5 separate regions of the Homo sapiens genome follow, and all the other regions are linked to region 3. The links come from fine-mapping of genetic effects on gene expression. A gene starts in region 3. Each other region holds a variant in brackets. All regions are shown on one strand. Distances are between the middles of the regions. Region 1 overlaps LOC107986776 (a long non-coding RNA gene). Region 2 has its middle 28 kb from the start of TOMM7. Region 3 holds the start of SNHG26 (small nucleolar RNA host gene 26). Region 4 overlaps STK31 (serine/threonine kinase 31). Region 5 has its middle 56 kb from the start of STEAP1B-AS1.

Region 1 (5,107 bases), 27 kb after region 3:
AGTTCCCATTTTAAGCTGAGATTCCCATGTAATTACATCCTAAATGTAAGCAAGGGTAAACCTGAAGTAAACTGACCCTCACATGGACTTGTAGTCCAGTTCTGCCTCATCCCAATGGGCCAGGAAATCTCAAACCTTGAACATGGATTAAAGTGTTACCAAATGACTAGTGTCCACTATGCATCTGGTAGAAGCTAGTTAAAGTTATCTCTAAAGGAAGATGCCACCATCTTAGGCTTCAAAGTATTCCTACAATAATAATAATAAAATAAAAATTTTATAAAATAATATACAAATTATTATCATTATTATGTTGAGACTGGATCTCACGCGTTCTCCCAGGCTGAGTGCAATGGTGCAATCATAGCTCACTGCAGCCTCAACTTCCCAGGCTCAAGAGATCCTCCCACCTCAAGCCTCCCAAGTAGCCAGGACTACAGGCATGCACCAGGATGCCCAGTTATTTTTTTTTTATGTATAAAAAAGATGGGGTCTCACTATGTTGCCCAGGCTGGTCTCCTGGGCTCAAGCAATACTCCCACCTCAGCCTCCCAAAGTGTTGAGATTACAAGTGTGAGCAACCACACCCAGCCTTTATAATTATTTATTATATTTATTCCAACACATATGTTTTTATGTACCTGCTTTTTTTTTTTTAGATGGAGTACCCTTGTCGCCCAGGCTGGAGGGCAGTGGCATGATCTCAGCTTGCTGCAACCTCCACCTCCTGGGTTCAAGTGATTCTTCTGCCTCAGCTTCCTGAGTAGCTGGGATTACAGTCATGCGCCACCACACCCAGCTAATTTTTGTATTTTTAATAGAGATGGGGTTGGCCGGGCACTGTGGCTCACACCTGTAGTCCCAGCACTTTCGGAGGCTGAGGCAGGTGGATCATGAGGTCAGGAGATCGAGGCCATCCTGGCTAATATGGTGAAACCCCATCTCTACTAAAAATATAAAAAATTAGCCAGGCGTGGAGGCGTGCACCTGTAGTCCCAGCTACTCTGGAGGCTGAGGCAGGAGAATCGCTTGAACTTGGGAGGCAGAGGTTCCAGTGAGCCAAGATAGCGCCACTGCACTCCAGCCTGCGTGACAGAGTGAGACTCCATCTCAAATAAATAAATAAATAAATAAATAAATTAGAGACGGGGGTTTCACCATGTTGGCCAGGCTGGTCTTGAACTCCTGACCTCAAGTGATCAGCCCACCTTGGCCTCCCAAAATGCTGGGATTACAGGAATGAGCCACTACACCCAGCCACCTTCCTCTATTTGTTCTATATTTGATAATTCAAACATATTTAAACAAAAATACACATTTTTGCATCTAATATTTTGAGACATCCTAATGTCCTTAATATTGCAGTTCTCTTAACCATCCAAAGATAAAAGATTAATTTCATTTTGATTCCTCTCTTACCCACATTCATAAGGCACAACTTATAAAAATAAAAAATCTTGGACTCATGAGGTAAATCAAAGTTGCTCCTAAAACACATGTATTTAAACCACGAGCATTATTAAACAATAAATATATATACATTATTTATTTGGAGCAAATTTTGCCAGCTAATCAGAAAGAGTAAAATGCTGTTTAGCATGAATTTGCTTTTAGAGAGTACACCAGTGCTGGATAAAAATACAGGCACCAAGTTAGGGGATTCTCAGGGATTTTGTTTTCTTTTGACAAAGTTGTCTTCATTCATTTGTCACTGAGGGACCGCTAGGGAAATATCCACCTGTATCCCTTTTCTTAAGTCTAGAAATAGAGAAATAAGCAAGGCATTTCCATTGATATATGTGCCATAAAGGAAGTAGCCCAGAATGCAATGAAAGTATGTAAAAATGGCAGGAAGTTGCCCCACGGCAAAATCTGAGGGCCAAGAAGGAACTGAACTAGCAAGTGAGGATTAGGGGTAGAGACAGCTCTCCAGGTTGGGAGAACAGTGGGTACAGAGGCCTATTGAAAAGAGAAAGGATAACTGCAGACAAAATCCAGAGGTTGGGGTGGAAGGTGCGAAAGTCGGAGAGGAATAAGAAAGGGAAGGGATGAATCAAGTCTGGAGAGAGACTCCCCTTTACCTGGGAGGAGCAGGAAGGAGCGGTGGATCACCAAAGCTGCTGTGCCCTGATATGGCTTGGCTGTGTCCCCATCCAAATCTCAAATTGTATCTCCCAGAATTTCCACGTGTTGTGGGAAGGACCCAGGGGGAGGTAATTGAATCACGGGGGCCAGTCTTTCCTGCGCTATGCTTGTGGTAGTGAATAAGTCTCACAAGATCTCATGGGTTTATTAGGGGTTTCTGCGTTTGCTTCTTCCTCATTTTCTCTTGCCGCCACCATGTAAGATGAGCCTTTCACCTCCCACCATGACTCTGAGGCCTCCCTAGCCATGTGGAACTGTAAGTCCAATTAAACCTCTTTTTCTTCCCAGTCTCAGGTATGTCTTTATCAGCAGTGTGAAAATGGACTAATACAGCCCTCTGTGGATTCCCAGCTGCAGGCGGCCTCCTCTCCAGCCTTTCAACACACTCACCCTGCACCTTCCCCACAGAGCTGGGGGCCAGGGCCTGTCTCAGCTACTTGCCAGGACTCCTTTCCTGCTTCCTCTTGCCCATCCTGACCATCACTCCTTATTTTCACCTTTCTGATGCCCATCAGAAATGGGGGTCATAAATGGGGGTCAGAAATGCGGTTCTGATTTAGATCTTTAGTGCCACAGGAAACACAGTTATCAGTGCAGAGTGAGTGTGGGAAAGTTTTCAGGAGAGAAGAGAGGTCATTTAGGAGAGTGGATCAGACCCCCATCTGGCCAGGCAGTGGCATCCCAGTCTTCCTGGTTATGCCCTGCAATCTC[A/C]TGTGTGTCTTCCTGGTTTTAGAGAGCCCTGCTGAAAGCCCTCTTTATGGCACCCACTGCCTTCTACCCTACCTCATCGCCACATCCCCTATGGAGGCTACCACTGATTCAGATCCATCATTGCAACCCTCAGCAGAATAGCCCTGCTATAGTGGCAGGGATTCCATATCTACCCTTTCCTTCCTTCCTCCCCTCCTCCCTTCCTTTCTTTTCTTTCCCTTCTTTTTTCCTTCCTTCCCTCTTCCTTCCTCCCATCCTTCCTTCTCACCTGCCCTCTTGTATGTATTCATGTATTTAGGTATTTTGCCAGGCATTGGGGATAAAGTGGTAAGAAAGTTGGAGAGGGTTCTTACACTTACAGCCCAGGGATAACAGCAAATAGACCATGAATTACAACCCAGTGTGATAAGTTTCAGCTTAGACAGGGTGAGGTGCCACCCCATCACCCCAGAAGCTAGTCATGGAGGAACCATGGCAGGTCACTCAAAAGGCCCTCTGGAACCTAAAGGTTGGCATATGGCACTGAGGAAGGACATTGACTCTGGACATGTCAACCCCTGACACAGGAGCACTACCCAGCCACCCACCCCAACACTGAAACAGTGCCTGGGGTCATTCACACCCGCAGAGGTCACCAACCCTGTGGCCTCTCCCCAGGTGCACCCTCTGTGCTTCAGCACTTCAGCCATGCCTGAGGCATCAGGGTTTTGCTGTCACTCCACACCCCAGCACTGGACAAATCCTCCAGTGACAGAAACTGCATTAAAGTGCTGGAACCACAGTCTGCTCAAGCCAACCCCACTGGCCCATCGGCTGGTGGAAAGAGCTTCTTGGGAGCTAGCCTGCCACAGCAGGAATTCTCTGGAATGTGTCAGGATCTTCCATCTGGCCCAGTCTGGGTAGAGGGTCTGGCCAGGAGAAGATCACTCCTCACTGGCTAGTCTCCCTTCAAAGTCTCAGCACCAGGTTGGTCCTTGGGCTGGGCTGCCATTGGACTGCATTTCTCGTGTCCACTGACATTCCCACTTCCCTAAATGACCTCTCTTCTCTCCTGAAAATTCTCCCACACTCACTCTGCACTGATGACTGTGTTTCCTGTGTCACTAAAGATCTAAAAAGCATGGGAGAGGACTTCCTTGAGCTCTCATCCCCACACCTGCCCCCCTGCCTGCACCCAGGCCCTGGGCTCTGCCACTCCTCCTGTCTCCAGGCTCCTGGCACAGACCAATTCCCCCCCACATCCCTCTTCCCTCCAGTCTTTCTTCCCCCCTGCTCATGTGTCCTCAAACGTTCTCTTTACTAGGTCTTACAAACAAGCTGTTATTCCAAGAATCTCTTCAAAAAACAGCAACAAGGCTTTCAGCTTTCAGCTGGGAGGAGGCCAAGGTGCAACTTTCTTGGGTCGTCCTGAATCTAGCCACCTCTGCCATGCTGCCGAAGTTCTACCCCAATGAGATCAAAGTCACATACCTAAGGTGTACTGGGGATGAAGTGGGTGCCACGTCTGTGTTGGCCCCCAAGATCAGCCCCCTAGGTCTGTCTTCAGAAAAGGTTGGTGATGACATTGCTAAAGCAACTGGTGACTGAAAGGATCTGAGGATTACAGTGAAACTGATCATTTAGAACAGAGAGGCCCAGATTGAGGTGGTGACTTCTGCCTCTGCCCTGATCATCAAAGCCCTCAAGGAACCGCCAAGAGACAGAAAGAAACAGAAAAACATTAAACACAGTGGAAATATCACTTTTGATGAGATTGTCAATGTTGCTCAACACATGTGGCACCGATCTTTAGCCAGAGAACTCTCTGGAATCATTAAAGAGATCCTGGGGACTCCCCAGTCTGTGGGCTGCAATGTTGATGGCTGCCACCCTCATGATATCATAGATGACATCAACGGTGGTGCTGTGGAATGCCCAGCTAATTAAGAAGCACAAAGGAAAATATTTCAATAAAGGATCATTTGAAAAACAAACAAAAAAAAAAAAACACAAAAAAACAAAAACAGCAACAATAACTTTCTCTTGGCCTCCCTGTTCTTCTCTTGGCTACTACCCCAGCTCTCTACTCACCTTTATATCTTGAAAGGATCATTTGTTCTTGCTTCAATTCTCCCTCAACCCACTGTGAACAACTTTCATCCCCATCTCTCAACATATCTACTCCTCACAAGGTCATCAATTACCCCCCACAGGGTGCAATCCAGCTGTCAGTTCTGAGTGCTCATCTCTGCATGTGACACCTTGCTCCCTT
Region 2 (5,107 bases), 59 kb before region 3:
AGTTCAAGGCTGCAGTAAGCTATGATTGTGCCACTGCACTCCAGCCTGGATGACAGAGCAAGACCCTATCTCTAAAAAAAAAAAAAAAAATTTTATTTTTATTTTTACTTTTTAAGTGACTAGTAGCCAAGAGATGGAAGCAGGTAGAGATGATCCAGATATTGAAGTTAGCTAGAAAGACTTCAAAATAACTATAATTAATATGTTAAAGAAAAGAGGGGTAAAGATTGACAATGAGAATGAAAAGATGAAGTATAAAATCAGAGAATTAGAATCTTTTTTAAAGAGAATTAAGTAGACATTCAATATTTGTAAAATACAATATCAGAAATTAAGAATTTATCAGCTGGATTCACAGTGCAAAAGAAAACAAGATTAATTAATTTGAAGACAGGTCAGAGGAATATATCCAAACTGAAACACAGAGAGAAAAAATAACAGTCACCTTAAATATATTATTTGGGAGATACTCCCCTCATTCACTCCTCTTTTTATTCTCCTTTCTCCCAGGCAACTTATTTTTTCTAATAAGAAAAAGCAGGTGAGAGTGGGATGTAAAATAATACGTGGCTATGGCCGGGCACAGTGGCTCATGCCTGTAATCCCAGCACTTTGGGAGGCCAAGGCAGGCGGATCACCTGAGGTCAGGAGTTTGAGACCAGCCTGACCAACATGGAGAAACCCCGTCTCTACTAAAAATACAAAAAAATTAGCTGGGCGTGGTGGCACATGCCTGTAATCCCAGCTACTTGGGAGGCTGAGGCAGGAGAATTGCTTGAACTTGGGAGGCGGAGGTTGTGGTGAGCCAGGATCATGCCATTGCACCCCAGCCTGGGCAACAAGACCGAAACTCTGTCTCAAAAAAAAAAAACAAACAAAAAAAAACAACTTGGTTGGGCACAGTGGCTCACGCCTGTAATCCTAACACTTTGGAAGGCCGAGGTGGGAGGACGCCTTGAGCCCAGGAATTCAAGACCAGCCTGGGCAACACAGGAAAACTCCATCCCTACAAAAAACACAAAAATTTACAAAAAAACACAAAAATTTAGCTGTGTGAAGTGGCATGTGCCTGTAATCCTAGTTACTCAGGAGGCTGAAATGAGAGGATCCCTTGAGCCTGGGCATTCTAGCCTGGGCAATAGAGCAAGACTCTGTCTCAAAAATAAAATAAAATAAAAATTTAAAACAAAATATACCAAGAGAAGCTTGGAAAAAAAATTTGCTCTAATCAAAGTCAAACGACAAACTGGAAAAATACCTACCAATCATATCACAGATATAATTTCTGTAAAATACAAAAGGATCTACAGGCTGGGTGTGGTGGCTCACACCTGTAATCCTAGAACTTTGGGAGGCTGAGGTGGGAGGATTGCTTGAGTCCAGCAGTTCAAGATCAGCCTCGGCAACATGGCAAGATCCCTTCTCTATCATTTAAAAAGTAAATAAATAAAAGGACCCATAAATCAATATGAAAAAGGCCAACATGCCAACAGAAAATGCGCTAAAGGAAACACAATGGTTCTTAAATATATGAAAAGATTCTCCATCTCACTCAAAGCAAAATAGTAACTAAATCTATAAAACACCATGTTTCATCAGTTTGGAAAGACCATTAAGTTTGATAACACATGACTCAGCAAAGGTATGGACAAAAGGGGCTCTCACTAGAGTTTTCAGAGATCTACTCTCCCAAACATACATCACTCTGCCATTCCTAGAGTCTGGCCTTTCTCCTCCTGATCCAAGATAGCTATCATCCAGTCATTTCACATCCATTTCAAGAAACATACTTCCCTTTCAGGAAGACTTACCCAAAGTACCACACAACACTTCTGCTTACATCTCAATTATCAAATATTAGTCATAGAGCTATATCTAACAGCAAGCCTGGGAATCTTGTAGCTTGGTTGCCACATAGCCAGCTAAAAGTGACACTTTGCAAGAGAGCGACAGAAATGGATTTTTGTTAGGCAATTAACATTCTCTGCCATGCCTACTTCTTTGATTGCCAAATATTGATACACGCTTTCTCATATACAGAACACAATGAATCTCTCCCAGGGATACAGTTCTCAAATTTCATCCAGATACTGCATCCAGGTCAAAGTTCAGGAACTCTGGGAAATATGTACCTTCCATCTGGTACAGACAGCATCTCATGGTCCAGCAATCAAAAAACTTAAAAATGAGTTAACTGCCCCCAACTTACCCAACATACAAAGGTGGAGTAGGAGCAAGATTAAAACATTGAGGCCAGGCGCAGTGGCTCACGCCTGTAATTCCAGCATTTTGGGAGGCTGAGGCAGGCGGATCACCTGAGGTCAGGA[G/C]TTCGAGACTAGCCTGACCAACATGGAGAAACCCCATCTCTACTGAAAATACAAAATGAGCCAGGTGCGGTGGTGCATGCCTGTAATCCCAGCTACTTAGGAGGCTGAGGCAAGAGAATCACTTGAACCCAGGAGGCAGAGGCTGCAGTGAGCCGAGATCGCGCCACTGCACTCCAGCCTGGGCAACAAGAGCGAAACTCCGTCTCAGGAAAAAAAAAAAAAAAAAAAAAAAGATTAAAACATTGAAACTGCCCACCAGGAAAGGGGAGAAAGGAAAGCCTGCTATAGTCACTGGTCTACAGCAATATTAAATCTTATGGGGCAGGAAGAGTGACTTCCTTCCCAGGCAGTACCTGGGACCTTCAGTTGTGCTCTCTGGGAAACTCCTTTGGAGGCTTCTAGTTTTGCCCTCTGAGGTTGTTTCTTGTCCACTATCTTCTGTGGCCTCATCTTAAATAGGCATTAGGGAGCATCAGCGAGCTGCAGACCTTCCATAGCTCACTCTTTATTAGTGGTTGTATTAGTCGGTTTTCACACAGCTGATAAAGACAAACCCGAGACTGGGCAATTTACAAAAGAGGTTTAATTAGACTTACAGTGCCATGTGGCTGGGGAGGCCTCATAATCATGGTGGAAGGCAAGGAGGAGCAAGTCATGTCTTACATGAATGGCAGAAGGCAGAAAGAGAGCTTGTATAGGGAAACTCCCATTTTTAAAACCATCAGATCTCATGAGACTCATTCACTATTATGAGAACGATGCATGATAGACCTGACCCCATAATTCAATCATCTCTCACCGGGTTCCTCCCACAACACATGGCAATTGTGGGAGTTACAATTCAAGATGAGATTTGGGTGGGGACACAGGCAAACCATGTCATTCCACCCCTGGCCCATCACAAATCTCATGTCCTCACATTTGAAAACCAATCACACCTTCCCAATAGTCCCCCAAAGTCTTAACTCATTTCAGCATTAACTCAAAAGTCCACAGTCCAAAGTCTCATCTGAGACAAGGCAAGTCCCTTTCGCCTATGAGCCTATAAAATCAAAAGCAAGGTAGTTACTTCCTAGATATTTAGAGGTACAGGCACTGGGTAAATGTACCCATTCCAAGTGGGAGACATTGGTCAAAACAAAGGGGCTACAGGCCCCACACAAGTCCGAAATCCAGCAGGGCAGTCAAATCTTAAAGGTCCAAAATGATCTCCTTTGACTCCATGTCTCACATCCGGGTCACGCTGATGCAAGAGGTAGGTTCCCATGGTCTCGGGTAGCTCTGCCTCTGTGGCTTTGCAGGATACAGCCTCCCTCCCAGCTGCTTTCATGGACTGGCATTGAGCATCTGTGGCTTTTCCAGGCATGTGGTACAAGCTGCCAGTGGATCTATCATTCTGGGGTCTGGAGGATGGTGGCCTTCTTCTCACAGCCCGACTAGGTGGTGCCCCAGTAGGGACTCTGTGTGGGGGATCCCACCCCACATTTCCCTTCTGCACTGCCCTAGCAGAGGCTGTCCATATGAGGAACCCATCCCTACAACAAACTTCTGCCTGGGCATCCAGGCATTCCCGTAGATCTTCTGAAATCTAGGCAGAGGTTCTTAAACCTCAATTCTTTTTTTGTTTGTTTGGTTTGTGTTTTTTGTTTTGTTTTTTTGAGATGGAGTCTTTGCTCTGTCGCCCAGGCTGGAGTGCAGTGGCACGATCTCGGCTCCCTGCAAGCTCCGCCTCCCAGGTTCACGCCATTCTCCTGTCTCAGCTTCCCAAGTAGCTGGGACTACAGGCACCTGCCACCACGCTTGGCTAATTTTTTTGTATTTTTTAGTAGAGACAGGGTTTCACCGTGTTAGCCAGGATGGTCTTGATCTCCTGACCTTGTGATCCTCCTGCCTCAGCCTCCCAAAGTGCTGGGATTACAGGCGTGAGCCACCATGCCCAGCCTTAAACCTCAATTCTTAACTTACGTGCACTCACAGGCACAACATCACATGAAAGCTGCCAACGCTTGAGGCTTCCACCCTCTGAAACCATGGCCTGAGCTCTATGTTGGCCCCTTTCAGCCATGGCTGGAGCAGATGGGACACAGGGCACCAAGTCCCTAGGCTCCACACAACACGGGACGCTGGGCCCAGCCCACGAAACCACTTTTTTCTCCTAGGCCTCCAGGCCTGTGATGGGAGGGGCTACAGAAAGTTCTCTGACATGCCCTGGAGATATTTTCCCCATTGTCTTGGTGATTAATATTTGGTTCCTCATTACTTATGCAAATTTCTGCAGCCAGGTTGAATTTCTTCTCAGAAAATGGGATTTTCTTTTCTATTGCCTTGTCAGGCTACAAATTTTTTGAACTTTTATGCTGTTTCCCTTTTAAAACTGAATACCTTTAACAGCACCCAAGTCACTTCTTGGATGCTTTCCTGCTTAGAGATTTCTTCTGCCAGATACCCTAAATCATCCCTCTCAAGTTCAAAGTTCCACAAATCTCTAGGGCAGGGGCAAAATACCACCAGTCTCTTAGCTCAAACATAACAAGAGTCACCTTTGCTCCAGTTCCAAACAAGTTTCTCATTTCCCTCTGAGACCACCTCAGCCTGGACATTATTGTCCATATCATTATCAGTGTTTTGGTCAAAGCTATTCCACAAGTCTCTAGGAACTTCCAAACTTTCCCACATCTTCCTGTCTTCTTCTGAACCCTCCAAATTGTTCCATCCTCTGCCTGTTACCCAGTTCCAGAGTCGCTTCCACAGTTTTGGGTATTTTTTCAGCAGCGCCCCAC
Region 3 (5,107 bases):
TTGACCATCGAAAAAACACAAAAATGGCTGGGTGCAGTTCACCACACCCATTTCCCCTAGTCCCACAGAGGAAATAATAGTCTGCACCTGTCCACCTTGAAAACAGGTGACAGGCAGAGGATGGAAGCCAACAGGACCACCACAGTTTGCATGATTTCAGCATTCATGTTGGCACAGAATTGTATTGAAATTCCTTCCTTCTCTGGAAAGGAATGAGGAAAGAATGAGTAAAAGGCCCGGGGCATTGTCTGGGAGAAGCTCCTCTACAGAAAAGCATGGGACTGGGGGAAAAGGCTCCCCACTAACAGCAGCAAAACAAGCCAGGGAAGTGCACAACGCCTCCCAATGCCCTGGGATTCCTACTCTCCAAGCATAGATGCTCCTTAGCTTATAATGGATTTATGTTCTGATAACCCCACTGTGAGTTCAAAATATGGTAAGTTGAAAGTGCATTTAATACACCTACCTACCGAACATCCCAGTCTACTATTATCCCATTAGCCTAGTCTACTTCACATGTGCTCAGGACACTTACATTACACTACAGTTAGACAAAACAATTGAACACAAAACCTATTTTAGAATAAAGTGTTGAATATCTCATGTAATTTATTGAACACTGTACCGAAAGTGAAAAACAGAATGGTTGTACGGATACTTGAAGCACACTTTCTACTGAGCTACGTATTGCTTTTGCACCATCACAAAGTAAAAAAAAAAAAAAAAAACATAAATCAAACCATTGTAAGTCAGGGAATATCTGTAGTTCACCACATGTGTGAAAGACAAGTCAAATGGACAGCAAGAAAAGGAAATTCAGTAGGTTTTATCAAGCATTTACAATGTGCAAAGCCCTAGGCCAGGTACTGGGAATACAGGAATAAATTCACACTCAAGGTGACCCAAGGAAGCTACCGCCTGGGATAAAACCCCACTACTGCCCCATTATCAGCCTTGAAGAGTTTTATGGTATGAATATTGAACTGCTTTGGGGGAATAATCTCTTCCTCTGATAAGGATATTTAGATAAGGAGTTTTTCCCCTTATCTAAATATATTCTAGGCGTTTACACTGAATTCGGGGGATTCAGTAGAGAAGGAAACAGAGTTCTCATGGAGCCTACATTGCACCATCATGGCAACTCTGCATGACAACACCCTAAGACCAGCTCCACCCACCAGAGAATAATCCTAGATGACCTATTAAAGTCCCCTGCACTCTATTATCCTATGATTTTTCTGTAACTCTCTTGGCCTCTTTGCTTCTTTCCTCTCCTAAATTTCATGCAGCATATGAGTTTCCTGCTGGTCATGCTACACTCATTGTACTAATAGGTACCTCTTCCTTCTGGAAGCCTTTCCTGTAGCCTTAGCAGGCTGGGCTTTGTGGCTTTATGCTGTGCCCTTGGCACTCTTCATGGGCTTCTATCAGTGGGTGAATCTCATTTTATATTCCTCACTTTAGTGCAGGGGCAGTTTCTCATTGAACTTCACACCCTCCAACACCAATCACAGCACCTGGCATAGAATAGGCACTCAATAAGTATTTGCTGCACTGAGCAATCTGTAGGGGCCAACATGGAAAGTTTTCCCTTTGCCCTCTTAAGGTTCACTAAAAAATCAACTTGCAAAAGGCAGATTAATTGGAGAAAAAGCATATAAATGTATTTAATGTGTATACCCGGGATCCTTCAAATGAAGACCCAAAGATACAGGGGAAATTATCCATTTTTATGCCTAGGTTCAACAAAGTATGGGCAGTGACGTAGAAATGTGATCGGACAAAAAGTGTATGATCTAAGACTAATAGAGGGAGAAAACCCAGCAAGGCCTGTCTGTCTGGATTCTTCTTGGCCTCTCTGAGCATGCACTCTTTCCTTCTGGGTATGGGACAGGACTCCCTCTGGAATGGGGGTCTTATGACCTACAGTCAAACAAGGGAAGTCAAATAATGTCTTTATGGCCAGATTTTACACAGAACGGCAGAGGGAAAGTCCCCACAGTCCTTGTATTAATTCCCTAGGGATGCCTTAACAAAGCACTCGGTGACTTAACAGAAATGTTTTGTCTCACATTTCTTGTGACTAGAAGTCCAAAATCAAAGTGTCAGCAGAACCAAACACCAAGCTCCCTCTGAAATCTGCAGGGGAGGGTCCTTCCTTGCCTCTTCCTAGCCTTTCTCCGGTGGTGGCCGGCAATCCACCGCATTCCTGGGCTTACAGCTGCATCACTCTGATCTGCCCCTGTCCCGCCACATTTTCGTGTGTCTCTGTCTTCAAGTGGCATTTTGACACCGTGTGATAAGGACATCAGTCATGTTGAATTAGGAGGGTCCACCCCAATGATCTCGTCTTGACCACATCTGTAAAGACGCAGTTTTTCCAAGTTAGGTCGCATTCACAGGTGCTGGAGGTTAGGTCTTCAATGTCTTTGGGAGTGGGGACAAATTCAGTCCTTAACACTCATGTTCTATATGTAGTGCTGCTTAGGCATCCAGCCAACAGACCTGCTTATTTTACTGCAGTCAGAATACCTTCTCCCCTTCCTCCTCACAGTCCAATGACACAGACGTGCTTTGGGGGCAAGATATTTGCGGGCCGTGGCCATCATTCTAAGCATGCAGCACTCCAGGCACCAGGAGTCCTCCCCGTGCTTCAACCCCTCTTCGATGAGTTTGCACCCCCGACCTCCGCTAATGTTCACATCCTTTAACGGGAGCCAGTCTTCTGCTACGTAATTAGACGAGTCTTGAAAGAAGCACCCAGGGGCGTGGCTGAAGACTTTAAGAAACACCAGGCAAGGGAGGGGAGTGGGTACCAGAGACACCTAACATTATTTGAGTGGCAGGAGCTTCCTCTGACCTTCAACGAGGTAAAGAGACATCACAGCCAGCGAGAGTTTGGGGCAGACTCCCCAGACTCGGAGGCCGGGGCAAAGTGGGAGCCGGGGCCAAGTGGGAGCCGGGGCCGTGTGGGGTGGGGGGGGGGGCCCAAGGCGGGGAAGGCCCGGGCCGCCGACAGGGGGCGCGCGAGGGCCTCCGGGCCCCGCGGGCGGGGCGGGTGCTGGACCCGGAGGGGCCTTCCGGCAACTTTTTGGTTGGTGCCGCCCCGCCCAGGCCCCTTTTAAACTTGATCTCCGCAGTGCCCTCCCTTTTCGGCCGCGGCGCGTGACTGGGTAAGTGGGCTCGGACCTTCTGGACGCAGGAGCCGACCACGTGGCTCCGGGGCTACCCCGTGCGCTTCCTAGGCGCGCCTCTCGCTGCCCCCACGCCGAGGCCTCGGCTCGGCGCCGCGGGGAAGCCTCCGTTAGGGCCCCTCGGGGGTGGGGGCGTCCTCGTGGCGCTTGGGCCCTTCGTCCCGGGTTAGGACGGCCCGTGTCCTTGTGCGCTTGAAGGGGCCGCCCCCTTTCCTCGAGGATCCCACCCCCACTCAGCAGAAGCCGCCAGGCGCCCGTCACCTCCCGTGCCTGAGTCCCTGCCGTCCACGCATTCGGCCTACAGGCAGCTTTTAGTCCTTTTTCAATTAAATGATTGCATTTTGAGGATCAAATTCCAACCGCAGGCGGAGGCGCCGAGCCCCGGACGGTCTCTGGGTTCTTGGTGCACTCGGGGCTCCTGCCTGCCCAGGGGCTGTGACCGCGCGGACGGAAGCCTATTTGGGAAGCGAGTGAGATCTGATGTCTGAAGCGCTTTAAGTTTCTAAGCGGGGCAGTATAATAGCGGGGTTAGCAAACACACGGAGGTCATTTCACTCGCGCAGCCATCCCCCACCGCCACCAGTGCCGTTCATTTGCTACTGGCCCGCAGTCAGATAATTTAAAGGCTTGGAGGGACGAGTCTTGCTGGAGCCGACGCCTACAGTAAGTTGAGCGGAGTGCTGTGAGCCCTAATAAGGGAGCCTGCTTTCCTCCCGAAGATTCGCTTTTTTGGGAGTGGCCAGAGCGTTATTACAGCACAGGGCCCGCTTCCAACGTTTAATCAGGGTGTGAGGAGGCCCTTCGTGGTTTTCTGACCTGGGAAAAGTCTGAACTACTGGGTTCTTTCTGGCTTGGACCAGGACAAGGTGTTGAACGCCTAACTTAGGTCTACTAAGGTGTAGAAATACGCAAGGCTGCCCCTAGAGAACGTTTGTCTGGGGAATAATGTAAGTTTTTGGAGCGGCTCTCCTGAGCATCGCTGAGCATACTAATTGTTCATTACTGGTACAAAATGCTATATAAAGGGATACTTTGCGAATTTAGTAAAATTGATAAAGATCTAAATTTACATTTGAGTCAACAAATAATCTTTGTGGCTAGCATAGGTACCACAGTTCTGTTGGAATGTGAAGCTCGTGGTTCACCTGTTTTCCTCAGTTGTGAAAGATTTGCTGCCTTTTTGATGAAACCAAATGGGACCCATTTTACCATTCTTTAATGAGGAAAGCTTGTACATTTGCAGCCTAGGTTCTAGGCATCTTTTATCCAGCGTTATAGATAGACCCAGAGCATGGACAATTTTCCCTCCCTGGAATACCTCCAGCTCTGGCGAATAGCCCTATATACAGCACAGGAAGATAGCGGTGGTAAGGCTTTGTTTTACCATTGCTTTAGGTGTTAGAGATTCTTATTGAGCCCATTTTATTTTTATTTTATTTTATTTATTTTTTTGAGTCGGAGACTCGCTCTGTCACCCAGGCTGTGGTGCAACGGCGCAATCTCGGCTCACTGCAACCTCTGCCTCCCGGGTTCAAGAAATTCTCCTGCCTCAGCCTCCTGAGTAGCTGGGATTACAGGTGCCCGCCACCATGCCCAACTGTTTGTATTTTTTAGTAGAGACGGGGTGTCACCTTGTTGGCCAGGCTGGTCTTGAACTCCTGAGCTGGTGATTCGCCAGCCTCAGCCTCCCAAAGTGCTGGGATTACAGGCGTGAGTCAGCGCACCCGGCCTGCCAAATTGTTTTTTAACTATTCAGTTTAAACTGTGAGAGACACCATGTCAAGGAAGCAGTGTGAGCTAGCGTCTAAGGATTGTGAAAACTGAGCAAGTGCCCAGAACTAGAAACTTCCCAGCCCCCTGAACTCAGCCTCAGGGTAAGCGAGTTTAATAGTGCTTCCTTTGATTTTCAAATC
Region 4 (5,107 bases), 970 kb after region 3:
GTTACATATGTACACATGTGCCATGTTGGTGTGCTGCACCCATTAACTCGTCATTTAGCATTAGGTGTATCTCCTAATGCTGTCCCTCCCACCACCCCACAACAGTCCCCGGTATGTGATGTTCCCCTTCCTGTGTCCATGTGTTCTCATTGTTCAGTTCCCACCTGTGAGTGAGAATATGTGGTGTTCGGTTTTTTGTCCTTGCGATAGTTTGCTGAGAATGATGGTTTCCAGCTTCATCCATGTCCCTACAAAGGACATGAACTCATCCTTTTTTATGGCTGCATAGTATTCCATGGTGTATATGTGCCACATTTTCTTAATCCAGCCTATCATTGTTGGACATTTGGGTTGGTTTCAAGTCTTTGCTATTGTGAATAGTGCCGCAATAAACGTATGTGTGCATGTGTCTTTATAGCAGCATGATTTATAATCATTTGGGTATATACCCAGTAATGGGATGGCTGGGTCAAATGGTATTTCTAGTTCTAGATCCCTGAGGAATTGCCACACCGACTTCCACAATGGTTGAACTAGTTTACAGTCCCACCAACAGTGTAAAAGTGTTCCTGTTTCTCCACATCATCTCCAGCACCTGTTGTTTCCTGACTTTTTAATGATCACCATTCTAACTGGTGTGAGATGGTATCTCATTGTGGTTTTGATTTGCATTTCTCTGATGGCCAGTGATGATGAGCATTTTTTCATGTGTTTTTTGGCTGCATAAATGTCTTCTTTTGAGAAGTGTCTGTTCATATCCTTCATCCACTTTTTGATGGGGTTGTTTGTTTTTTTCTTGTAAATTTGTTTGAGTTCATTGTAGATTCTGGATATTAGCCCTTTGTCAGATGAGTAGGTTGCAAAAATTTTCTCCCATTTTGTAGGTTGCTTGTTCACTCTGATGGTGGTTTCTTTTGCTGTGCAGAAGCTCTTTAGTTTAATTAGATCCCATTTGTCAATTTTGACTTTTGTTGCCATTGCTTTTGGTGTTTTAGACATGAAGTCCTTGTCCATGCCTATGTCCTGAATGGTATTGCCTAGTTATTCTTCTAGGGTTTTTATAGTTTTAGGTCTAACATGTAAGTCTTTAATCCATCTTGAATTAATTTTTGTATAAGGTGTAAGGAAGGGATCCAGTTTCAGCTTTCTATATACGGCTAGCCAGTGGTCCCAGCACCATTTATTAAATAGGGAATCCTTTCCCCATTGCTTGTTTTTGTCAGGTTTGTCAAAGATCAGGTAGTTGTAGGTGTGTGGTATTATTTCTGAGGCCTCTGTTCTGTTCCATTGGTCTATGTCTCTGTTTTGGTACCAGTATCATGCTATTTTGGTTACTGTAGCCTTGTAGTATAGTTTGAAGTCAGGTAGCGTGATGCCTCCAGCTTTGTTCTTTTGGCTTAGGATTGACTTGGCAATGCGGGCTCTTTGTTGGTTCCATATGAACTTTAAAGTAGTTTTTTCCAATTCTGTGAAGAAAGTCATTGGTAGCTCGATGGGGATGGCATTGAATCTATAAATTACCTTGGGCAGTATGGCCATTTTCTCGATATTGATTCTTCCTACCCATGAGCATGGAATGTTCTTCCATTTCTTTGTATCCTCTTTTACTTCATTGAGCAGTGGTTTGTAGTTCTCCTTGGAGAGGTCCTTCACATCCCTTGTAAGTTGGATTCTTAGGTATTTTATTCTCTTTGAAGCAATTGTGAATGGGAGTTCACTGATGATTTGACTCTCTGTTTGTTTGTTATTGGTGTATAAGAATGCTTGTGATTTTTGCACATTGATTTTGTATCCTGAGACTTTGCTGAAGTTGCTTATCAGCTTAAGGAGATTTTGGGCTGAGATGATGGGGTTTTCTAGATATACAATCATGTCATCTGCAAACAGGGACAATTGGACTTCCTCTTTTCCTAATTGAATGCCCTTTCTTCCTTCTCCTGCCTGATTGCCCTGGCCAGAACTTCCAACACTATGTTGAATAGGAGTGGTGAGAGAGGGCATCCCTGTCTTGTGCCAGTTTTCAAAGGGAATGCTTCCAGTTTTTGTACATTCAGTATGATATTGGCTGTGGGTTTGTCATAGATACCTCTTATTATTTTAAGATACATCCCATCAATACCTAATTTATTGAGAGTCTTTAGCATGAAGCGTTGTTGAATTTTGTCAAAGGCCTTTTCTGCATCTATTGAGATAATCATGTGGTTTTTGTCTTTGGTTCTGTTTATATGCTGGATTACGTTTATTGATTTTCATATGTTGAACCAGCCTTGCATCCCAGGGATGAAGCCCACTTGATCATGGTGGGTAAGCTTTTTGATGTGTTGCTGGATTCGGTTTGCCAGTATTTTATTGAGGATTTTTGCATCAATGTTCATCAAGAATATTGGTCTAAAATT[G/C]TCTTTTTTGGTTGTGTCTCTGCCCGGCTTTGGTATCAGGATGATGCTGGCCTCATAAAATGAGTTAGGGAGGATTCCCTCTTTTTCTATTGATTGGAATAGTTTCAGAAGGAATGGTACCAGCTCCTCCTTTTACCTCTGGTAGAATTTAGCTGTGAATCCATCTGGTCCTGGACTTTTTTTGGTTGGTAAGCTGTTAATTATTGCCTCAATTTCAGAGCCTGTTATTGGTCTATTCAGAGATTCAACTTCTTCCTGGCTTAGTCTTGGGAGTGTGTATGTGTCGAGGAATTCAACCATTTCTTCTAGATTTTCTAGTTTATTTGCGTAGAGGTGTTTATAGTATTCTCTGATGGTAGTTTGTATTTCTGTGGGATCACTGGTGATATCCCCTTTGTCATTTTTTATTGCATCTATTTGATTCTTCTCTCTTTTCTTCTTTATTAGTCTTGCTAGCAGTTTATCAATTTTGTTGATCTTTTCAAAAAACCAGCTCCTGGATTCATTGATTTTTTGAAGGGTTTTTTGTGTCTATATGTACTTCAGTTCTGCTCTAATCTTAGTTATTTCTTGCCTTCTGCTAGCTTTTGAAGGTGTTTGCTCTTGCTCCTCTAGTTCTTTTAATTGTGATGTTAGGGTGTCAATTTTAGATCTTTCCTGCTTTCTCTTATGGGCATTTAGTGCTATACATTTCCCTCTACACACTGCTTTGAATGTGTCCCAGAGATTCTGGTATGTTGTGTCTTTGTTCTCGTTGGTTTCAAAGAACATCTTTATTTCTGCCTTCATTTCGTTATGTGCTCAGTAGTCATTCAGGAGCAGGTTGTTCAGTTTCCATGTAGTTGAGTGGTTTTGAGTGAGTTTCTTAATCCTGAGTTCTAGTTCATTGCACTGTGGTCTGAGAGACAGTTTGTTATAATTTATGTTCTTTTACATTTGCTGAGGAGAGCTTTACTTCCAAGTATGTGGTCAATTTTGGAATAGGTGTGGTGTGGTGCTGAAAAGAATGTATATTCTGTTGATTTGGGGTGGAGAGTTCTGTAGATGTCTATTAGGTCCTCTTGGTGCAGAGCTGAGTTCAATTCCTGGATATCCTTGTTAACTTTCTGTCTTGTTGGTCTGCCTAATGTTGACAGTGGGGTGTTAAAGTCTCCCATTATTATTGTGTGGGAGCCTAAGTCTCTTTGTAGGTCACTCAGGACTTGCTTTATGAATCTGGGTCCTCCTGTATTGGGTGCATATATATTTAGGATAGTTAGTTCTTCTTGTTGAATTGATCCCTTTAACATTATGTAATGGCCTTCTTTGTCTCTTTTGATCTTTGTTGGTTTAAAGTCTGTTTTATCTGAGACTAGGATTGCAACCCCTGCCTTTTTTTGTTTTCCATTTGCTTGGCAGATCTTCCTCCATCCCTTTATTTTGAGCCTATGTGTGTCTCTGCACGTGAGATGGGTTTCCTGAATACAGCACACTGATGGGTCTTGACTCTTTATCCAGTTTGCCAGTCTGTGCCTTTTAATTGAAGCATTTAGCCCATTTACATTTAAGATTAATATTGTTATGTGTGAATTTGATCCTGTCATTATGATGTTAGCTGGTTATTTTGCTTGTTAGTTGATGCAGTTTCTTCCTAGCCTTGATGGTCTTTACAATTTGGCATGTTTTTGCAGTGGCTGGTACCTGTTGTTCCATGTTTAGTGCTTCCTTCACGAGCTCTTTTAGGGCAGGTCTGGTGGTGACAAAATCTCTCAGCATTTGCTTGTCTGTAAAGTATTTTATTTCTCCTTCATTTATGAAGCTTAGTTTGGCTGGATATGAAATTCTGGGTTGAAAATTCTTTTCTTTAAGAATGTTGAATATTGGCCCCCACTCTCTTCTGGCTTGTAGAGTTTCTGCTGAGAGATTCACTGTTAGTCTGATGGGCTTCCCTTTGTGGGTTACCCGACCTTTCTAAACTCTGGCTGCCGTTAACATTTTTTCCTTCATTTCAACTTTGGTGAATCTGACAATTATGTGTCTTGGAGTTGCTCTTCTTGAGGAGTATCTTTGTGGCATTCTCTGTATTTCCTGAATTTGAATGTTGGCCTGCCTTGCTAGGTTGGGGAAGTTCTCCTGGATAATATGCTGAAGAGTGTTTTCCAACTTGGTTCCATTCTCTTCGTCACTTTGAGGTACACCAATTAGACGTAGATTTGGTCTTTTCACGTAGTCCCATATTTCTTGGAGGCTTTGTTCATTTCTTTTTATTCTTTTTTCTCTAAACTTCTCTTCACACTTCATTTCATTCATTTCATCTTCCGTCACTGATACCCTTTCTTCCAGTTGATCGCGTCGGTTACTGAGTCTTGTGCATTCGTCATGTATTTCTCGTGCCATGGTTTTCAGCTCCATGAGGTCCTTTAAGGACTTCTCTGCATTGGTTATTCTAGTTATCCATTTGTCTTATTTTTTTCAAAGTTTTTAACTTCTTTGCCATTGGTTCGAACTTCCTCCTTTAGCTTGGAGTAGTTTGATCTTCTGAAGCCTTCCTCTCTCAACTCGTCAAAGTCATTCTCTGTCCAGCTTTGTTCAGTTGCTGGTGAGGAGCTGCGTTCCTTTGTCGGAGGAGAGGCTCTGATTTTTAGAGTTTCCGGTTTTTCTGCTCTGTTTTTTCCCCATCTTTGTGGTTTTATCTACCTTTGGTCTTTGATGATGGTGACGTACAGATGGGT
Region 5 (5,107 bases), 230 kb before region 3:
CATATGACTTATTTTCTCAGAGCCTCTGCAATTAAGGGCCCAAGTCTGGACCACCAATGTAACTTCACTCCTCCAGGAATCCAAGTACTGAAAGCAGGCCATAGCCCTTTTCAATCTTTGAAGTCGTACCCATATTAGTGGGCTTTTACTCTTAAAACATAAAGATCAGGGGACTTCTGTTCCTGAATAAAACGTAGTAAGATCGTAGCAGACTAGAATTCCCATTGCAACAATTATAAAGAACCAGATAAATTAAGAAAGTCACATTTTTAAGAATCTCAGAAAATGAGGAAGCAATGAAGGCTACATAAATCACCAATTGTTTTCTTCCCTGGGGACATTTTACAATTCTGGGCATGGACTAAGAATTTGACTTGACTTATAAAGAAGGAATCTACTTGGGGAAAGAGAAACCAGAGAGGTTTTTGGCAGTCACGTGGGGCTGGTGGGAGAAACCAGAAATTTGGTAAGTGCTAAACACATAGCTGGTTTTCCCCCGGGACATCTTCTGGGTTCAGGGGCTATGCAAAGAAGGCTGGGACATTTGTTTAAAGACTTCAAAAAGTCATAATAAAATCTCCTCTAGTTTCATGGTGCTAAGGGGAAAAAGTCTAATTAAAGGAAGAAGTCTTGCCATTCAAACACACAGCCAGCCACCCTGTTTAGGACATCTTCCAGATTTTGAAGCTGTAATGGGGCAAGGGGTGCAAGGCTAAAGAGCTAAGTTCAAAACCTCTAACGTACAGCACTAAATTCCCCACAATCTTTCAGAACTGAGAAGACAGAATTCCTGCAGGCTGTAATCAAAAGTCCAGAATAGCTATGTTTGAGGAACAGAAAAAAACCAGAAGTGGACTAAGTCTTACTAAAGCTGCAACTTAGCCCCTATTCAGCTCGAAGATAAAACCTTCATCCTAAGAGTGTTTCCAAAGAGGAATGTGGAAGCCCTTTCTAGTATAGGGCATCAACTGGAGCCTCTGCAGTGCTTCTATTTATATTGTCTGGTTTATAATAAAAAAATTACTAGACATGCAGAGAAGCAGAAAAAATGTGACTGATCATTATAATCAAGAGAAAAGATAAACAATAGAAGCAGACCCACAGATAAGCCAAATATTGAAGCTGGCAGATGAGAACTTTATTAAAAAACTCATTAATATACTACATGAAACAGAAGAAAATGGGGGAAATGGATGCAATGATAATGAATATAGAAAGATTTAAATCTTTGTAAAAGAATCAAATGTACATTCTCTAACTGACAAATATAACACCTGAGTTTAAAAACACATTAGGTGCATTTAACAGCAGACTGGACAGAGAAGTAGACAAAATTATTAGACTTTAAGATAGGATTATAGAAAATATACAAATCCAAGCACAGATGAAAAGAACGTATAAAAAGAAAACTGAGCATACGAGATAGTTAAAAGGTATACCATATTTATTTAAAGTTCCGGAATAAAAGGAGAAATAAATGGGAGCAGAAGCAGTATTTGTGGAAACAACAGCCAAAATGTTTCCAAAGTTGATAAGACATTACTCAACAGATTCAAGAAGCTCATCAAATTCTAAGCAAGATAAATAAAAGGAAAACAACAGTTAGACATATTTTTGTCAAACTTCTAATAATCAAGAATTAAAAGAAGCCTTAAAAGTACCCAGAGGGAAAAAATACATTAACTTCAAAGGAGCAACAATAAAATGAATGGCTGACTTTTCAACATAAATTATGAAAGCCAGGAGATAATGGGACAATATCTCAGAGTGCTGAAATAAAAGATTGTCAATTTAGAACTTTATGCTTATTTAAAATATCATTCAAAAATGAAGGAAAAGTAAAGAAATTTTCATCCAAATGAAAATGAATTTTTAACAGATCTTCACCACAAAATCAATTAAAGAAAAAATTTAAAGCAATCATATAAAGGCATGAAACTGAAAGAAGAAATAAAGAGCTTCAGAAAATGTAAATATGTGGGTAAAAATAAAATATTATTGTTTCATGTAACAAGAATAATAATGTCTTGTTGAAATTATAACATATAAACAAAATATGTGACAATATCACAAAGGCCAGAGGAAGAGTATTATGTCAAGAATGCATATTATGGTCTCCAGAGAAATCATAAAATAATAACATAATTTATTACTAACCATATAGTAAGTAGAGAAATGAAATAATAAAATATGCTTGATTAATCCAAAAGAAGACTAGAAAAGAAGAATAAATGAGCAAAGAACAGATGAACTGATAAAAAATAAATAGCAAGATAGTGGACTTAAACCCAACTATATCAGTAATTCCATTCCATATGAATAAGCCAAACAATAACATTTTTTTTAAAGATTGTTAGATTAAATTTTTAAAACTTGACTACATGTTACAGACAATAATTACTATATAGAGAGACACAGAAAGGGTGAGAATGAAAAGATGGTAAATGATATATCACCTTGACACTAACCAAAAGATAGCTGATGTCATTGTGCTAATAGCAGACATTGCCAAATACACTGTATGTTAGCCTAAGAGGAAGTCTTAACTTTTTTTTCAAAGGATTCAAATTATATGTAATATGTTCTCTGACTACAATAGAATTAAAATATAAATAAATCAGAGAACGATAATTAGAAAATCTCCGAAATATTTGGAAATTATGCAACATACTTCTAAATAACTCAAGGATCAAAAAATCAAATAAAATTAGAAAATATGAGCAAAATAACAATAAAAGTGACATATTAAACAGTGATGCCAAAAAGGAAATTTACAGTTCCAAATGCAAATGAATA[T/C]TTAAGATGAGAGAAAAAAGAAAGACTGAAAATCAATAAGCCTAATTCAGACAAATTTAATCCAAGGAAAACAGAAGAAAAAATATTAATGAGCAGAATTAATAGATTAAAAAACATATTACAGGGAAAGCAAACAAAGCCAAAAGTTAGTTCTTTGAAAATAGTAATACAATTTATAAGTCCTTATTAATGCTGATCAAGAAAAAGAGGGAGAGAAAACACAAATTATCAATATCAGGAATAAAAGGAAAATCATCACTACAGACATTTAATAAACAATCGTGTGTCACTTAATTTTAAAAATTGAGATAAAATAGATAAAATATTGTTTAAAAATAAACTCCAAAATGGACACAAGAAGAAATAGAAAATCTCAACAGTTCTATATCTGTTAAAGAAATTGAATCTACCTATTGAATTGTTCTATGTCTATGGAGTTGAATAGTTTATATCTATTAAAGGAATTGAAAGAAATTAAAACTCTTTTCACAAGGGCTTCAATGGTGAATCTTTACACGTATTTAAGAAATAAATAATATCGATCTTACACAAACTCTTCCTCTTCACTTTACTGTGTTTTTTAATCTTTGGCTAGGTAAATCAGGAATTTAGTCTAAAAGGGAAGAAAAAAAAGAAGACAAGTGTTCTTAGAGTTGTCTCCAAAGTGGCCTACAACCTCCCAGCAAATTTGCTTTCTTGACCAGAAACATTACATTTTAAAAAGCGTTTACTCCCCAAGGGGGCAAGGAGAGTTCACACCTTTAGAAACATAATCCTAGTTTTTCTTATTGTGGGTTGGGGATAAGGGATGTGAATTTTTACATTGTAAATCTACAGGGGAAGAAAAAGCTGCAAGCAAACTTTTTCAATAAGTCCATCAGCTCAGTGGTAATATAAAGTGCTTAGGACAGTGCCTAGTTTATAGCAGTCACTCAACATTTTTTTGGTTCCGTTCTCACTTTAACTTTCAAATCTGCAGCTTGTAGTAGACACTTGTTTATTGCCCCTAGCTTCCACTTATCTTCTTGGGCAATAGTCCTCAAATTCTCCTGTGTAGGGACTATCTTACCTCTATTCACAACCCATATATAGACGACCCTGTATTTGGGCTTTAGCGGTCAAAAAGCACCTTGGACAAATGAGGTCCAATGAAACCATGATGGTTAATTTTATATATCAATTTGACTGGGCCACGGGATGGTCAAACATTATTCTGAGTGTTTCTGTGACGATGTTTTTGGATGAGATTGTCATTTGAATCAGTAGGCTGAGTAAAGCAGATTGTCCCCCTCATGTGGGTGGGCCTCACCCTTCAGTTGAAGTCCTGACTAGAACAAAATGGTTGACCCTCTCCCAAGTAAGATGGAATTCCTCCTGTCTGAGTATCTTCAGACTGAAACAGTGGCTCTTCCTGGGTCCTTTGGACTGCAACTACACCATCAGTTCTCCGGCCTTCAGACTTGGACTTTGGACTTGCACCATGAGCTCTCCTGGGTCTTTAGATTTCTGACTCACTCTGCAGATCTTGACATTTGTCAGCTTCCATAATCATGGGAGCCAATTCTTTATAATAAATCTCTTTATATATGTATATATACACACATATATACATATATATAAATAGATTGCATAAATGTATATATTCATATGTATATAAACATATTTACATATTTTATATATGAGGAGTCAATAGAGCTAAAAGTGGAGCTGCTCAGAGGATGGGGAGCAGAGAGAGGAATCCTGGGGACATTGGCTAAGCCCTAATTTAAGTTGTGCCTGAAGCTCCCCTGGATCTTTCAACTTTTCAGCATCTATCAGCCAATACATTCTTTTCTTTTATGAGAATTTGGGCTGAATTTTCTGTCACAACCAAAAGAAGTGTTTTCCTTAATGAACACACACACACACACACGTACACACAGACACATATGGACACACATACACACGTACACATAGACACATGCACATACATACGTACAGACACACACATATGCATACACACACATATACACAAACGTACACACATATACACACACACACAGATGTCCCTGATTTTTCTTTATTTTTATTGCTTCTGATTTAAGTATGCTTCATTTAATAGACAGGGCATTTTGTTTTCTTTTTTTACACCAGCACTGAACAATCAAACTTTCTTCAGGGATGGAAATGTTTTACATCTGCACTGTCCAGTGAAGTCCCTGGACTGGGTAAAAGTGCCTAGAAAGAGAACGTTGACAAAGAAAAGAAGAGGCCAAGGATGGGGGTCTGATGAAGGAGGAAGAGCTAGCAGATGAGAAATGGCCAGTAGAGT

Evidence for each region.
Region 1: its variant is fine-mapped to the expression of SNHG26 in whole blood (TOPMed, PIP above 0.99).
Region 2: its variant is fine-mapped to the expression of SNHG26 in spinal cord (GTEx, PIP above 0.99).
Region 4: its variant is fine-mapped to the expression of SNHG26 in subcutaneous fat (GTEx, PIP 0.94).
Region 5: its variant is fine-mapped to the expression of SNHG26 in whole blood (INTERVAL, PIP above 0.99).

What each region holds. Positions count from the first base shown.
Region 1 is chr7:22,877,609-22,882,715 of GRCh38, forward strand. All of the region lies in intron 3 of LOC107986776 (a long non-coding RNA gene), which reads right to left. It also overlaps the pseudogene RPL12P10. Among named protein-coding and RNA genes, the nearest start is that of SNORD93, 24 kb to the left of the region's middle. The variant A/C (reference allele first, on the strand shown) is at 2,857.
Region 2 is chr7:22,792,156-22,797,262 of GRCh38, forward strand. No RefSeq gene overlaps it. Among named protein-coding and RNA genes, the nearest start is that of TOMM7, 28 kb to the right of the region's middle. The variant G/C (reference allele first, on the strand shown) is at 2,328.
Region 3 is chr7:22,851,108-22,856,214 of GRCh38, forward strand. SNHG26 (small nucleolar RNA host gene 26) reads left to right here and starts at 3,133. Exons shown (of 5, transcript NR_146320.1): 1 at 3,133-3,173. RefSeq lists a silencer at 2,948-3,407 and enhancers at 3,505-4,116, 3,908-4,137.
Region 4 is chr7:23,822,661-23,827,767 of GRCh38, forward strand. The region is part of intron 23 of STK31 (serine/threonine kinase 31); the gene reads left to right. Among named protein-coding and RNA genes, the nearest start is that of STK31, 110 kb to the left of the region's middle. The variant G/C (reference allele first, on the strand shown) is at 2,397.
Region 5 is chr7:22,616,986-22,622,092 of GRCh38, forward strand. No RefSeq gene overlaps it. Among named protein-coding and RNA genes, the nearest start is that of STEAP1B-AS1, 56 kb to the left of the region's middle. The variant T/C (reference allele first, on the strand shown) is at 2,797.